Linked DNA regions of Homo sapiens: region 2 is linked to region 1. The links come from fine-mapping of genetic effects on gene expression. A gene starts in region 1. The other region holds a variant in brackets. All regions are shown on one strand. Distances are between the middles of the regions.

Region 1 (5,369 bases):
CCCCTCCGCCTCAGAAATGGCAAAGAGCTTATTTTATTCCTAACAATGCCTCCCAGAATTTGAACTACAAAAGCACATATCCAGTGATGACCAAGGAAGGGATCTGAGGTACTGCAGAATGTAGAAAAACCTAGGTGCTAAAAAGTGGGGAGCAGAAGGGCCTGGAAGGCTGGGATGCAGAGAGGCCCGAATCCTTGAAAGGGCTGAAGCCAGAGAGCTGCTGGAATCCACAGACACTAAAAGAGAAAGCCAAAACCAAACCGCTAAGGGGTGTCACGGGCTAAAGGCACAGTGACTTTCTTACACAGCCAAATGTAAATAAGAGCAATTCCTATAGGTACATTCTCAGGTCCTGAGATTTAAACAGTGAAGGAAACAACGTTGGTAAGGAAGGGCCAGCTTGGCCTCTACCCCAGGGCTGGGCAAAGCCACGCCCAGCTGTTTCACCTGCTCCCTCCTCTCAAAAGACAACCACCACACCAAAGAGAATGAGACCAGAAGCTAAAGCCAGGCAAAGAAAAAAACGCAAAACAAAGTGAAGGACGGCACTGACCACGGTCACTTCCTGCTCCTCATGCCGCCAGGAGTCCACTCCCCAGGGCTCCTCACCAAGGATCTGAGACACACACACACACACACCTTTCGCTAAAGAAGCTGCTTCTCAGCTCCTCTGCACACACACAGAAGTCAGTCCGCTCCCCTAGTAATTTTTTTAGTCTTTCTGCAAGGTGTTATGGACATACTTTGCACAGCTGAGTTACTCACTGTGTGTGTGGAGGGGGTTGGGGAGGAGGTAACCTTAAAGAGCAGAGGTTTTACATCCAACAACATCAACCACCTTATTCAGGAATTACCTGGACAAGAGTGTGTGTTGGGGGAGACCCTGTAACCACCTGTCAAGTGGACTAAAAGTCTTAGGTTTCTTTCCATATAGATTAACTGTGTCCTCACCTCAAAGACCGGGCCTCTGAAGCTTTTTCAAGATTCACAGAATCTCTCTTAACTTGTGCTAGATCTTTTCTTGAAAAAAAGCCAATCATGACAAGCAGATATAATCCGTTTAAGGACTACGGGAAGTGTGCAGCCTTGTACGGACGTCCCATTGGAAACCCTCGGAGTATGGAATCAAACTCCTGTAAACTTTCCTCTTGCAAAGTAACTTTGTTTAGTAATTGCAATTAATTCATAATCAAAATGTGGCTTATTCATAGCACTTAAAAAAAAATCCCAACCAAATCCTTCCTAGCCTCAATTTTGTCACTATGAATGACATACACAGAAAAAATAAAAAACATTTCTGTGTAAAAAGTCGCAGGATGCCCTTGCTTTACCAAACTGGCCTCACTATGAGGTCTGAATGGATTTCTAAAAACGTAATCTGATCAGAGTTAACTTCAAAATAAATAACTTCCCTTTCGACCAACACGAGAACACCAACAGAAGCTTCTGACGGCTCAGCTTGGCCGGGACGTGTTTCCACAGAGGTGCCCGGGTCTACCAGGGCCACCCGGAATAGAAAGGCGCAGAAGGGAGCCCGAGGGGCTGCGATTCTCTTAGCAACGAAGGCGGTGTGGGCCACACAACGGGACAAAAGAAGAAACAAAACTGACTGCGAGCTCATTTGGGTGTAGGAAAACCACTGCAGTCGAAAAACATTTGAAATTATGGTTCGCAAGGCAAGTTACATTTTTATTCATTAAATGTGAACGGTCATCCCCAGAACCACGTACAATAACCTGCCTCGGGGCGCGTCGCAAGGACCCGTCTGGGCTGAGACATGAAGCAGGGCCCAGGTGGCCCTTCCTGGAGGTGGGACGGGAATGACACGTCCAGAGAAGTCCCAGGGACGGGGCTCGCGGGGTTAACTCGACGTGGCCGGGACAGCGCGCTCCCGGCGGACCCGGGCGGCGCCCCGAGCCCGAGCCCCGTCCCGTCCGCCCGGAAGCAACGGCGCGGGCACGTGGGCCAGGCCGGGCGCCGACCCCCGGCACTCGGCCGCTCAGTCGGCGCCGCCCCCGCGCCAGCTGTCAGGGCCGGGGTCCGCGCGGGGGCGGGTCCGGGGCGGCGCCGGGCGGGGACCCCGAGGCCACGGAACCGCGCCCCCGCCCGCCTGGCCCCGGCCCTGGCCCCGGCGCGGCGCAGACAATGGCGCGGCCCGGCCCGGCCCCGGCGCGGTCCGCGGGGGACGGGGCTCGCGGCAGGCGGCGGGGCGGCGGCGCCCGCGCACTCACCTCGGCCCGGCCTCTGGGGCGGCTCCCGGCCGGCTGCGGACGACGGCGGCGCGGGCGGACGCTCCATTCATTACCGCGGCTTTGTCTGCCCCCGCGCCCCTCCCGCGGCCCCGCCGCCCGCCGCCCGCGACGCCGCCGGACGCTGCGCCCCTCCCAGGGCCCCGCGCGGCGCGGGGCGGGGCTGGCCGGGGGCGGGGCCGATCGGGGGCGGGGCCTACTCTCGCAGGCGCAGTGTCCGCGTACCCGCCCCGCCTCGTCCCTGGCCGGGCGGGAGGACGGAGCGCCGGAGGCCCGGCCGCTGGGGCGGGGTCGGGCGGAAGACGCAGGCGCAATGCGCGCTTCGGCTCCGCCCCCGGGTCCAGGAGGGCAAACTACGCAGGCGCAGTGGGCGCTCCGGCGCTGGCGGGCGACGGGAAGGGCTTAGGCGCTCTGGCTGGGCGGGGCGCGGGCGCCTTGGTTTCGTCCCGTGGCTTGGCAGTTGGCAGCGGCTCGGCGCGCACCCAACGGCCCACCGCGGGTTTCCGGGACGGCTAGCAGCGCGGTTCCCGGTCCCGCCCCGAACCCCCTTACCTGGCGCAGAGGCCGCTCAGTGCGGTGCGGTCAGGCCTCGTGGGCTGGGACCTAAGCCGTTGACCCTAAGGCGATCGGGGCTCCCCGCGCGGCCCCCCCGGGGGACGGGATTAACGCCTAAGCCCCAAGCCGGGTCGGCGGGAGGAGGGCGGCCCTCTGGGCGAGCGCGGGGCCGGGGCTGGCGGTGCGGAGCGCACGGGACTCGCCCGCTTCTCAGGGTCTGAAGGAAATGTGCACTTTTAATGTGTTATTTCCTAACACAAATGTTTGAGCAGACCAAATAAACTCTGCATGCTGAATGTGGCCCCGAGGTCCCCCGTTGGTGACACGGCTTTCGGCATTTTCTCGGCCTGAGTGTGAGAGTGAGAGGAGCCCGCGTGGCGGTCACCGGCTGGAGCGGGAGCGTGGAGTTATCACGGCCGCCTCTGCCCGGAGCCCGCCCCTGCCCCGCGGCTGTGCCCCTTCACCCGCACGCCGACTGTTCCAAAGTCCACGTCCAGCCTGCAGCCGGGTTTTCTATGGTGCCTGAGCTAAGAATGCTTTTCTCGTTTTTAAGAGGTTGGGGGAGAATTAAAACAGTATTTTAGCATATATGAAAAGTATATGACATTCAAATATCGGCCGGGCACGGTGGCTCACGCCTGTAATCCCTGCACTTTGGGAGGCCGAGGCGGGTGGATCACCTGAGATCAGGAGTTCGAGACCAGCCTGGCCAACATGGAGAAACCCCGTCTCTACTGAAAAAAAATAAAAAATTAGCCAGACGTGGTGGTGGGCTCCTGTAATCCCAGATACTCGGGAGACTGAGGCAGAAGAATCGCTTGAACCCGGGAGGCAGAGGTTGCAGTGAGCCGAGATCGCGCCACTGCACTCCAGTCTGGGTGACAGAGCAAGACTCCGTCTCCAAAAAAAAATTAAATTAAAATGTCGGTTTCCTAAGGAGTTCAACTGGAACACCACCATGCTTGTTCATGTAGTTAAAAGGTAAACTGCTTTACCTTCCACCATAGCTATGGAGTTGAGACCAGGCACTGACACCCAAAAAGGGCTCCCTGTTTCTTTCTTTTTCTTTTTTTTTTCTTTCTGAGACAGAGTCTCGCTCTGTCCCCAGGCTGGAGTGCGGTAGCGTGATCTCGGCTCACTGCAACCTCCGCCTCCCGGGTTCAAGCGATTCTCCTGCCTCAGCCTCCAGAGTAGCTGAGACTACAGGCGCTCGCCACCACGCCCAGCTAATTTATGTATTTTTAGTAGAGATGGGGTTTCACCATGTTGACCAGGATGGTCTCGATCTCCTGATCTTGTGATCCGCCCGCCTTGGCCTCCCAAAGTGCTGGGATTACAGGCATGAGCCACCGTGCCCGGCCTGGGGATCCCTGTTTCATTCAGAGTGGAGGCCAGTGTTCTCAGGCCTGCTCTGCCCCTGCCATCCCCTCATCAGATCTGCAGCAGCCCCCAGCCTCCTTGATGCTTGCTTTGGGGTCTTCGCACTGACTTCTTGTCTGCCTGGACTGCTCTTCCCCTCTGCCAGTGTCAAGCTCCCAGACGGCTGCCCATATGTCAGCATAGTGGGAGGCTCTCCGGGGCCATGCTCTAGGAAGTAACACTGCGCTCTCCTCATCCCCTCTCCGGGCTCTGACACATCTGACACACTGTATATGCCTGTGTCATGACTGCCCCCCAACAGCCTCCTGCTAGAATCAGTGGGAGGGGGGACTTCTTTGTTGTATGTGCTGAGGGAGCATGCCCAGTGCCGAGAGCAAGGCCCCCTACGCTTTGTGGAGTAGGTTAATGGGGCCCCACAATTGCCTGGCACTCATGTGCAGAAATAGAAGATTCCTGGGGCCAAAGAGCAACAGCTCTTCCCAAAGGGGCCTGCCGGTGAGTGAGTGAGTGCAGGTTGACAGGTCCCTCCTAGTGCCTTCCAAATTGTGCAGGGCAGCCAGGTGCGGCCTATTCTCTGGCCCCTCACAGGAAGATACTGTTTTGTATGTCGGGTGGCCCTTGGACTAAGTGCCCAAATGGGGCACCCTGGAGCATGGAAGGGCACACTAGACATCATGGGGCCAGGACCCAGCATCAACTGGGACTGTTTCGGCAAGCCAGTACCCCATGCCTCCACCAGCTGCAGTCCATTCATTTAATCTTTGATGGGCACTTTCTGTGTGCCCAAGATACAATATCTTATTTTTTCTTTTTCTTTTTTTTTTTTCAGTCTGCAAGTGCTTGGTACATACACAGATGGTATTTATTTGCTGTTTGTCTTAAATTGCATTCTTATGCATCATAGAGACTGCGATAAGGAGAAGAAAAAATATTTTCTACAGGACCATCCAAACATGTAAGTGGCTTTTCATGGGACAGTTTCCCATCACGGGAAAGACATAAGTCGATTCTTAGTCATCCAGAGTGTCAGTATCTTATTTTTTCATTCATCTGAACCAAAGTGTGACATCCCAGGGCCAGGTGTTTTATCTGAGTTCCATGCACAGACTGTGAGCCCCACCTGTACAGGGCAGTGCGAGTCAGGGATGCTCCGCACTGAGGCAGAAGAGCAGCTGGTGCCCTGGT
Region 2 (5,369 bases), 39 kb before region 1:
TCTGCCCCCAGCGGCAATGCTCCTGCCCCTCCTCCTCCTCCTGGGCTTCACTCCCACATGTGACTCCCTCCAACTCTCCCCTCCCTGCTTCAAGGGTGTCTCCCTCTCTCCTCACTCAGCTGTCCCCCAGGGCAGTGCCTTTGGGGTGGGTGGACGTGAGAGGCCTCTGGCCTCCACACACTGCCCACTGCTACCCTTGCTCAAGGCTGCTCAACCAGGGAGGAGACGGCCGTCCGGCAGGATGGTCACTGGGGCCAGAGGGAGTGGTCAGTCAGGACACATTCTGGAACAACACTCACTTTATTTGCTGCTGAGGCAAGTGTTCAGATCTCTCACTGTGATTGTCTATTTCTCCTCTTAGTTCTTTCTGTTCCAGTCACATTTTGGAGTTGTGTTCTTTGGTGCTTTTATGTTTAGCATTGTTGTGTCATCCCATTAACCTCACCACTTGGTCACTGAGCTGTCCCTCCATCTCTAATGAGTCCTCCTGCCTGAGGCCGTGCTGTCAGATGTGAACAGCTGTAGCAGATGTGTGGGTGGTGCCCTGGCTTCTGGCCTCTCGCATTCACTCTGCATCCTTGGACTCGATATGTGAAGCCTGTGAATGAACATAGCTGGGTTTTGTCTATCCAATCTAACACACTTAATTGGAGTTTGCATTCCACTTACATTTAATATGCTTGCTGACACATTTGGTTTAAAGCTACCATTTGCCTCTGTTTCCTATGTGTCCCATCTGGTTATTTTTCCTTTCTTACCTTCTTTGGGATTAGTGAAAGTAGGTATTAGTCCAGTTTCATCAACATGTTTATTGCTTTTAGCGGTTACCCTAGAGATCACGTCTGATGTCAGAATCTACTTTATTATTTTTTTTGAGATGAAGTCTTGCTCTGTCGCCCAGGCTAGAATGCAGTGGTGCCATCTCGGCTCACTGCAACCTCCGCCTCCTGGGTTCAAGCAATTCTCGTGCCTCAACCTCCCGAGTAGCTGGGATTACAGGCATGCGTCACCAGGCCCAGTTAATTTTTTGTTTTTTCAGTAAAGACGGGGTTTCATCATGTTGGCCAGGCTGGTCTCAAATTCCTGACCTCAGGTGATCCGCCTGCCTTGGCCTCCCAAAGTGCTGGGATTACAGGTGTGAGCCACTGCACCTGGCCCAGAATCTACTTGAAATCCATACTTTCACCCCTTGCAGGATGGTGCAATCCTTTATTTCCCTCCCACCTTTTGTCCTTACTGTCCATGTATCTTAAGTCTACCTGTATTTTGAACTCTAAGAGATAGTTTTAGGCAGTCTATTATTTATTTAGCTTTCCCGTTTCTGCTCCTTTCAGGAGTATTCCTTGTTCCTTCCCACATCAAGTGTCCACCTGGAGAATTCCCTCCAGGATATATTTTAGGGCTGGTTGGCTGGTGACAAGTTTCTGCAATTTTTTGTTTTGTCCAAAAACTTAAGTTCATCCTCACTTTTGAGGAATCTTCTCACTGGGTATATAAATCTAGATTGGTAATTATTTCCTTTCAGCATTTAAAAAAAGCCACTCCACCATTCCAACTATTTGTTTTAGAGAGTCAGCTGCCAGCTTTATTGCTCCTCTGAAGGTAAAAGTGTCTCTCCTCCCTCCCTCTGCTTAAGGTTGTCTCTTTCTCTTTGGGTTTCAGCACTTTGCCATGATGTGCCTAGGTGCAGGTTGTTATTTTCAATTTATCCTCATTGGGGTTCAAAGATATTGACACCTATGGCTGATGTCCCAACAGTTCTGGAAAGTCCTCAGCTGTGATCTCATCCAAATGGCGCTCCACCCCTTCTCTCTCCTCTTCTGGGACTCCCGTCAGCTGTGTGCTAGTCTTTTCTCTTGCGCTGTGTCTCTCAGGCACTTTTCATCTCTCTGTACTTCAAGATGAATGTTTTCTACTGGCTTGTCTTCCAATTCAGTAATCCTTTCATCTATAAGCCTAATTTGGTACTAACTACATCTAGGGAATTCTTCATTCATCGTTGTGTTTTTCAGCATTAGCACGTTTACAGATTCTCTCTGGTGGCATTCTCCACCTTCTCATCCATATTATTGAATGTATAAATCATAAAGTCCGTGTCTGAAAACTCCAGTATTTGGATCACCTGTGAGACTATTTCTATTGTCTTATGATTCTCTTTTCAGTCACTTAGTCCTTTTTTTCAGTGTGTCTCATAATTTTTTTATGAGAGTCAAACTGTTTATCTGTAAAGTTATAGGAGCTCTGATGTTTTCATTGAAAGAAAATTTAGTTTTCCTCTAGCAGAAAGGTGAGGCAGATCGCCCTGATGCAATCAAGGCTGAGATGGCTCAAGCCATGTCCAGACTTGGTGAGGGTTGGTCCCTCTCCAGTTTGCCCTTCAGGGGACTCACCTGGAAACCTCAGAGTTTTCTCAATGGCAGGCACTGAAGTCCCAAGTTTTGTCTCCCTTGCCCAAAGATGTCTCAGCTTTCCAGCCTTTTGCTGCTATATTTGGGTTTCCAAGCCTCTTGCCTCAAGCACAAGCAGCAACCAGGAATAGGCACCTGCTGCAGGGGAAGCTGCACACTGGGAATTCGGCCACTTCTCTGAGGCTCCTGGCATCCTGGCCAACATGACAGCTTGTGTGTTGCTGCCGGTCTCCCAGCCCAGTGACACCACGCCAGCTCTGGTTGCCACCTTCTGTCAGGCCTTAGGGCAGGACACCAGCAAATGGCCCAACAGGAAAAAATGTTGTGAACACAGGACTCACCTTTATGCAAGTCTCATCTTACTAGGATTTTGTTTCTTCAAATCCTGGCTGTCTTACTCTCTGATGTCTTCAAAAAGTTTTTTTTTTTTTTTTTTTTTTTT[TG/G]AGACAGAGTCTTGCTCTGTCGCCCAGGCTGGAGTGCAGTGGCACGATCTCGGCTTACTGCAACCTCTGCCTCCCAGGTTCACGCCATTCTCCTGCCTCAGCCTCCAGAGTAGCTGGGACTACAGACGCCCACCACCACACCCAGCTAATTTTTTGTATTTTTAGTAGAGACGGGGTTTCACTGTTTTAGCCAGGATGCAAAAAGCTCTTTTTAAAAATATATTTTATATGGCCTTGATAGTTCTTGGGAAAGGTTTGGTCTGATAGCAGTTGCTGCCTCATAGTCAGAAGTGGAAGAGAAGGGAATTTTAGCTTTAAATGAAGTTCAATGTTTTATTATTGCAGGAGTGGTCTTCAAAAAGTTCATGGAAAATGCATATTATGACAAAACTATGCATGCATTTCAAAATTCTTTTGCTCCAAAATAAACTCATACTAACTTGTTAGAACATGCCTGAATAGATCTAGTTTGAGGCAGTAAGAATCAGTTTGAAAAGGGCTCCTAGCAGAACATGAATTCTGCAAAAACTGAAGCAAAAACAAGCATCAAATCTATAGTGAACCTTGGGTGGAAGAATGGTGAAAATCATGATGCTTTACAAAAAGTGTATGAGGACAGTGCCCTAAAGAAGTCAGCAGTATACACATAGATACCTCGTTTTAAGAAGGATCAAGACAACATTGGAGATGAAGACCACAGTGGCAGACCATCCACATCAATTTGCAAGGAAAATATTGATCTTGTTCATGCTCTGATTAAAGAGGACTGACGATTAACAGAACAATAGCCAAGACCACAGACATCTCAACTGGTTCAAAATTGAAGTTGAGCAAGCTTTCCACTCGATGGGTGCCAAAACCGTTGTGCCCAGATCAGCTGCAGACAAGAGCAGAGCTTTCAATGGAAATTTTAAACAAGTGGCATCAAGACCCTGAAGCATTTCCTTGAATTATAACAGGAGATGGAACAGGACTTTACCAGTACCATCCTGAAGACAAACCACAATCAAAGCAATGGCTACCAAGAGGTAGAAGTGGCCTAGTCAAGGCAAATGTGGACAAGTCAAAGTAAGGTCATGGCAACAGTTTCTTGGGATGCTCAATGCATTTTGCTTGTTGACTTTCTGGAGGGCCAAAGAACATTTTTTTTTTTTTTTTGAGATGGAGTCTCGCTCTGTCGCCCAGGCTGGAGTGCAGTGGCACAATCTCAGCTAGCTGCAAGCTCTGCCTCCCAGGTTCACGCCATTCTCCTGCCTCAGCCTTCCGAGTAGCTGGAGTAGCTGGGACTAGAGGTGCCTGCCACCACGCCCAGCTAATTTTTTGTATTTTTAGTGGAGACGGGACGGGGTTTCACCATGTTAGCCAGGATGGTCTCGATTTCCTGACCTCGTGATCTGCCCACCTCAGCCTCCCAAAGTGCTGGGATTACAGGCGTGAGCCACCGCATCTGGCCACAATAACATCTTATTATGAGAGTGTTTTGAGAAAGTTAGCCGAAGCTTTAGCAAAAACACACCCAGGAAAGCCTCATCAGTGTCTTTCTCCACGATGACAATGCTCCTGGCTCATTCTTCTCATCAAATAAGGGCAATTCTTCAAGAGTTTTGTTGGGAAATCATTAGGCATCCACCTTACAGTCCCGATTTTGCTCCTTCTGACTTTGTTTCCTCATTTTAAAAAATCTTTAAAAGCACTCATTTTTTCTTCCGTTAATAATGTTAAAAAGGCTGCACTGACATGGTTAAATTCCCAGAGCCTGCAATTCTTTAGAGGTGGACTAAATGGCTGGTGTCACAGCTTACAAAAGTATCTTGATCTTGATGGAGCTTACATTGAGAAATAAAAATGTTGTTTTGTTGTTGTCATTGTTGGTGGTTTTAAGAGAGAGGATCTTGCTCTGTTGTCCAGGCTAGAGTGCAGTGGTGTGATCACAGCTCACTGCAACCTCAAACTCCTGGGCTCAAGTAATCCTCCTCCCTCTGCCTCCCAAGTAGCTGGGACTACAGGCATGCACTACCAAACCTGGCTAATTTCTTGAACTCCTGGCCTCAAGCAGTCCTCCCACCTCAGCCTCCCAAAGTACTGGGATTACAAACATAAGCCACTGTGCCCAGCCAAGAAATAAAGTTTTTATTTTTTTATCATCTTTTACTTCAGTATTTCCACAAATTTTTTAAAGTCCCTTCGTATAATGACTGGTAATTTCATTCACTGAAGAGACAGTTCTGAGGCTCATACAAAGAGCTTTTTATTATCTGAGACAGACCTGAGAAATTAAGGAACCTGCCTAAAACATCATTTCCAGGCAGGGAAACAAACAGCTCGCAGCTGGGGTTCTGAACGGAGAGGCAAGGTGGGAATGGCTAAGAATCAACATATTTTCTAGTTGCACCCACAGTCCCCTCATTCAAGTAGTGAGAGTCGTGTGACTGTCAGCACTGGGCCTCTTGTCCATCTTCCTGCAGGACTGTCAGCAACTGGAGGGCAGAGACGGTTTGACCATTGAGTGCCGGTTTCA

Alleles and levels. Alleles are on the strand shown, and positions count from the first base shown. SD is a standard deviation of normalised expression in the study named.
For the expression in neutrophils of the gene that starts at base 2,377 in region 1, TG is the low allele of the variant in region 2 and G is the other (large effect, 1.2 SD a copy in Naranbhai 2015).

Evidence for each region. PIP is the estimated chance that this variant, and not a neighbour inherited with it, causes the effect. A credible set is the group of variants that fine-mapping cannot tell apart.
Region 2: its variant is the best candidate, but not a certain one, in a credible set for the expression of ZBED4 in neutrophils (Naranbhai 2015, PIP 0.67).

Annotation. Positions count from the first base shown.
Region 1 is chr22:49,850,852-49,856,220 of GRCh38, reverse strand. ZBED4 (zinc finger BED-type containing 4) reads right to left here and starts at 2,377. Exons shown (of 2, transcript NM_014838.3): 1 at 2,232-2,377. It overlaps LOC105377205 (a long non-coding RNA gene), which reads left to right and starts at 2,709. Exons shown (of 5, transcript NR_188597.1): 1 at 2,709-3,785; 2 at 5,014-5,139. LOC124905147 (a long non-coding RNA gene) reads left to right here. Exons shown (of 2, transcript XR_007068156.1): 2 at 935-1,719. RefSeq lists silencers at 1,730-2,019, 2,190-2,919, 2,940-3,029.
Region 2 is chr22:49,889,670-49,895,038 of GRCh38, reverse strand. It overlaps ZBED4 (zinc finger BED-type containing 4), which reads right to left. Exons shown (of 2, transcript NM_014838.3): 2 at 4,959-5,369. It also overlaps a transcript of ALG12 not described here. Among named protein-coding and RNA genes, the nearest start is that of ALG12, 26 kb to the left of the region's middle. The variant TG/G (reference allele first, on the strand shown) is at 2,851.